Linked DNA regions of Homo sapiens: region 1 is linked to region 2. The links come from fine-mapping of genetic effects on plasma protein levels. A gene starts in region 2. The other region holds a variant in brackets. All regions are shown on one strand. Distances are from middle to middle.

Region 1 (2,500 bases), 13 kb after region 2:
TTCTCTCTGGATTCCTCCTCTCCCACCTGCTGTTCTCTTGTCCCCGAAGTGAGTCCCAGAACAGCCAAGGCTCTGGTAAGGGTGTAGGACGGAGCAGAAGGGAGCTGGAAAAACACGATAGTAAAAGAAAGTCAGGAGAAAATCCGGGTGGAAAGACGAGAGGGAGAGCTAGAGCTCAGAGTTCCAGAAAGGAAAGTGTGCCGTCACCGCCTCATCATAAAAGCCATCCACAACTTCCTTCCATGAGGCTCACTGAGAACAGCGGCACCAAGACACAACCAGGAACTGCCCCAGGAGTGACTTCACGAGCAGTTTATTCATTGCAATTGTTCTCATGGTGATAAAGAAAAAGTACCAGGAGATGGATCCTGGACTGGAAGGTCAGAGAAGCCTCCCTGAAAAGGTGGCATCTAAGCTGAGGCTGTGAATGCTGAGCAGAAGTTAGCCCGTGGCCAGGGGAGGTCAGAGGCTGGAGTAAGAGGTGGGCGCTGCAGGAACCGAGTAAGGAAGGACTCGTGCATTACAGGAAGGGGGAGAAATGCTCTGCCCATGGGATGTGGTGAAGGGTGAGCGGAGATGGAGTAAAGAACTGCATCTGGCCGGGTGCAGCGGCTCAGGCCTATAATCCCAGCACTTTGGGAGGCTGAGGCGGGCGGATCATGAGGTCAGGAGTTCAAGACCAGCCTGGCCTACACGGTGAAACCCCGACTCTACTAAAAATACAAAACTTAGCTGGACGTGGTGGCGCATGCCTGTAATCCCAGCTACTCGGGAGGCTGAGGCAGGAGAATTGCTTGAACTGAGGAGGTGGAGTTTGCAGTGAGCTGAGATTGCACTGCTGTACTCCAGCCTGGGCGACAGAGCGAGACTCCGTCTCAAAAAAAAAAAAAAAAAAAAAAAAAAAGGCTTTCAACAGCATTACAGAGTCTGTGTTCTTTTGATTGTTAACCTCTTTTTTTTTCCTACCTTTAGTTTTCTCCAGGGTGTTTTCACGCAATTGGAAGATTATTTGGCCTCTTTCTGAACAATGTCCAGCTGGGTCCCAGCCTTACAGAGAAGCTATGTTTGGAATTAGCAAACACAAGCATTCGGAATCTGTCTCTGAGTAACAGCCAGCTGTCCACCACCAGCAATACAACTTTCTTGGGACTAAAGTGGACAAATCTCACTATGCTCGATCTTTCCTACAACAACTTAAATGTGGTTGGTAACGATTCCTTTGCTTGG[C/G]TTCCACAACTAGAATATTTCTTCCTAGAGTATAATAATATACAGCATTTGTTTTCTCACTCTTTGCACGGGCTTTTCAATGTGAGGTACCTGAATTTGAAACGGTCTTTTACTAAACAAAGTATTTCCCTTGCCTCACTCCCCAAGATTGATGATTTTTCTTTTCAGTGGCTAAAATGTTTGGAGCACCTTAACATGGAAGATAATGATATTCCAGGCATAAAAAGCAATATGTTCACAGGATTGATAAACCTGAAATACTTAAGTCTATCCAACTCCTTTACAAGTTTGCGAACTTTGACAAATGAAACATTTGTATCACTTGCTCATTCTCCCTTACACATACTCAACCTAACCAAGAATAAAATCTCAAAAATAGAGAGTGATGCTTTCTCTTGGTTGGGCCACCTAGAAGTACTTGACCTGGGCCTTAATGAAATTGGGCAAGAACTCACAGGCCAGGAATGGAGAGGTCTAGAAAATATTTTCGAAATCTATCTTTCCTACAACAAGTACCTGCAGCTGACTAGGAACTCCTTTGCCTTGGTCCCAAGCCTTCAACGACTGATGCTCCGAAGGGTGGCCCTTAAAAATGTGGATAGCTCTCCTTCACCATTCCAGCCTCTTCGTAACTTGACCATTCTGGATCTAAGCAACAACAACATAGCCAACATAAATGATGACATGTTGGAGGGTCTTGAGAAACTAGAAATTCTCGATTTGCAGCATAACAACTTAGCACGGCTCTGGAAACACGCAAACCCTGGTGGTCCCATTTATTTCCTAAAGGGTCTGTCTCACCTCCACATCCTTAACTTGGAGTCCAACGGCTTTGACGAGATCCCAGTTGAGGTCTTCAAGGATTTATTTGAACTAAAGATCATCGATTTAGGATTGAATAATTTAAACACACTTCCAGCATCTGTCTTTAATAATCAGGTGTCTCTAAAGTCATTGAACCTTCAGAAGAATCTCATAACATCCGTTGAGAAGAAGGTTTTCGGGCCAGCTTTCAGGAACCTGACTGAGTTAGATATGCGCTTTAATCCCTTTGATTGCACGTGTGAAAGTATTGCCTGGTTTGTTAATTGGATTAACGAGACCCATACCAACATCCCTGAGCTGTCAAGCCACTACCTTTGCAACACTCCACCTCACTATCATGGGTTCCCAGTGAGACTTTTTGATACATCATCTTGCAAAGACAGTGCCCCCTTTGAACTCTTTTTCATGATCAATACCAGTATCCTGTTGATTTTTATCTTTATTGTAC
Region 2 (3,029 bases):
CAACAATCATTTATTTGCTTGCTTCTCAAGCCTGGGTAATCGTGTTTGGCAATGAGACCTTGTTGCATGCTTGCTAATATCCCACTGGTCAAAGCTAGTCAAATGGCCAAGCCTAGAGTCAGCGTGGGAGAAGGCCACACAAGGGTTTGAATTCTGAGGACGAGTCTCTTTCATTGAAGGCCAAAGAAACAGTCTACCTCAGAGGGTTGCTGGGGAGCTATAATGCAAAGAATAAACCTCACCCTGCCTTCAAGGCGCTCACAGAGAAGAAATCTTTTGAATATTAGTGAAGTTTTCCTGGACATCCCAATGGATAGATGTGAGGGACAGTCACGTACTCAGGACATCTGTTTGCTTATGGTGTTATGTTACAGATGTCACAAATGAAAATCAGAGACATGTAGCCCTGAGCCCAGTAACTATAAAGCGGTCTAGCTGAAGCTGGAGCCCACAAGAGGGCACTTTGCACCATGATGCACGCTTGTTTCTTGCCATCAGCTCTGCAATGAGTTCAAGCTAATGCCATGTCCCAGCCGTCCAGTTGTTTTATGACTTGTGTGATTGAAGCATATGGTGGCTTGTGGCATGTTCTTAGGCAAACCACTCACCTCCCTAGGTTTCGTTTTCCTAATTTCTCAAACAAGGGAGTTAGATTAGGTGGTCTATAGTTCCTTCCAATTGTGATATTTCACTATATAACAATATAGTTATAATAGATCATAGCACATCTGTAATGAAAAAAAGTGAGTTCATTTCTTAACAAGTACATTTACTTAACTAGTTGGAGTCATTAAAGCAAATTAAGAACGAAATTCTTAGTTAATCTGAACTTTTCTGGGCATACTGATCTGTTCCCTAACGCGTCTGACCGTGGAAAAGTGGATCAGCAGGAGTGGGACTGGCTCTCAGCTTTGCCATGTTTGGCTCTTTCTCTGCTGTGAAACTCAGTTTCTTCCTGGATCAAGAGGTTAATTTCTGCCGGTGTTATTTTACAGTGTTGCAAAGAGATAAAAGCCAGACGAAAGAAGGGAAAGTACTTCAGCTTTGATTAGGGATTTTTTTTTCTGTCCCTGTGACCATACACTACTCAATTCTGACAGCTTCGCATGAGTCTAGCAGAAAATTGAGGGATTCACTGTTATTCCTTAACTTGCAGAGGTCCAGACCCGCCCACATCAAATGGTGAGGTCCCCACTTTCAACTTTAGCTGTTGCTAAATCTGTGACCCTTTCAATGAAATCCAAGGATCTCAGCTTAAAAAAAGTTAAAATAAAATAAAAACTAGGTGTTTTTCAGAGGCGGTTTGAAACGCCTCTCTGAGGTTGTCAGAGATTGTTTTTGTTTTCTCCCTTTGCCCTTCTTGGAATGCACCAAACATAAAAGCATTTTTTTTCAAGCTTTACTTTCACTTTCGAGAGTGCCGTCTATTTGCCACACACTTCCCTGATGAAATGTCTGGATTTGGACTAAAGAAAAAAGGAAAGGCTAGCAGTCATCCAAGTAAGTGAAGGTGTTCATTTCACGTTCTTACTGGGCAGGGTCTCTCTTGCTGAGTAGAGTTTGCTAGCAGAATGCATGTGGTTTTAGCCTTCTTTGGTCTTTCTTTGATCTGGTGCTTGAAATCTAGTCAGAATTATTCAGGAAGGAAAGTGGAAGAAAAGGGATATGATATGGGCATGGGAGAAGGGTATAACTCAGAACACAAGTAATAGCACCAATATCTAGTTAATGTGATAATGTATTTATGCAGTATTTAATTTTTTTCTCTGTAGCATTCTGTACCTGGAAAAAACACATTAGGGAAGCTATGGAAATCATTTTGCAACAGTCTTTTTAGCAAATCACATCTTTGCCTTAAAGAAACAAAACTCCAAGAGGTTAAAAGAGCGTATCCCCTTTTGTTAGTTTTATTGGCTGGAGGGGAGACAGGAGCTGGCATTGTATGACAATGTCTTAGATAGGAGAGAACATTCAGGTATGCCTAGGAGTAAGTAAATGGCTTTCTTTCACCTAATGAAGGATAATGGAAGAAGTGGAGAAGTGGAAAGTTGTTAAGGTGTATGGGAAGATCAGAAACTGGTATCGGCAATTGTGGGGTACTCGGGTAAAAATGGAGTTGGCTTCAGCAAGTTGATTCCCAGGTTTACAGATGATTACGTGCTGGTATGTGTCTTCATATGGGCGTGCCTGTGTATGAACCTACTACAAAGGTTGCAAAGTTTACAAATCAAACTATGGATAGTGGTTAACTCCAGGTAGTCTGCCTCCAGACCCCATGTCCTAACCATCAGGCAATATTGTCTCTCACTTGGACAAAGAATGTGAATTCCATGTGCCCTCACAAAATATTTCCAAAATTCTAAGGCTGAGTGAGTCTCTTTTTAATTTTTTTTCATTTTCTTTATTTCTGCTAGATCTCATTCAACAGCAACGTTTTCTTCACTCTCATTTCATCCTTTAACTGCATTTTTGCTTGTTTTACTGAAGCATGTCCTAGAATAACCTTTTCATACAGATCGTATGGCTATAAACTTACTGAATTTTTGCATATCTCAAAATACTTATACCTTTTTATTTAGTTATTCAGATGGATGTGAAATTTCCCTATCTTATTTTATTTTATTTTATTTCATTTTATTTCATTTATCGATTTAGAGACAAGGTCTCGCTGTGTTGCCCAGGCTGAAGTACAGTGGCATGATCGTGGCTCACTGCAGCCTTGACCTCCCTGGCTCAAGCAATTCTCACACCTCAGTGTCACGAGTAGCTGGGACCACAGGTGTGAACCACTATGGCCAGCTAATTTAAAAAAAAATTTTGGTGGAGATGAGGTTTCCCTGTGTTGCCCAGGCTGGTCCCAAACTCCTAGGCTCAAGGGATCCTCCAGCCTCAGCTTCCTAAAGTGATGGGATTACAGGCATGAGCCACAGGTAATTTTCTTGGCCTGGTCAAAGGTAATTTTCTTGTTTTTTAGAGGTAAGGTCTTGCTCTGTTGCCCAGGCTGGAGTGCAGTGGTGTGATCATGATTC

Direction of the effects. Alleles are on the strand shown, and positions count from the first base shown. The strength of an association depends on the size of the effect and on how common the allele is.
As copies of G replace C in region 1, the plasma level of the protein whose gene starts at base 1,408 in region 2 goes down (weak association).

What was found. PIP is the chance, under the fine-mapping model, that this variant and not a neighbour inherited with it causes the effect. The UK Biobank Pharma Proteomics Project read protein levels with antibody pairs (Olink). The fine-mapping took linkage between variants from a reference panel, not from the people measured, so its PIPs are less certain.
Region 1: its variant is fine-mapped to the plasma level of the TLR3 protein (UK Biobank, PIP above 0.99). The variant lies in the coding sequence of TLR3. If it changes the protein, the assay may bind it differently, which can mimic a change of level.

The regions. Positions count from the first base shown.
Region 1 is chr4:186,081,348-186,083,847 of GRCh38, forward strand. It overlaps TLR3 (toll like receptor 3), which reads left to right. Exons shown (of 5, transcript NM_003265.3): 4 at 973-2,500. Among named protein-coding and RNA genes, the nearest start is that of TLR3, 13 kb to the left of the region's middle. The variant C/G (reference allele first, on the strand shown) is at 1,228.
Region 2 is chr4:186,067,749-186,070,777 of GRCh38, forward strand. It overlaps TLR3 (toll like receptor 3), which reads left to right and starts at 1,408. Exons shown (of 5, transcript NM_003265.3): 1 at 1,408-1,500.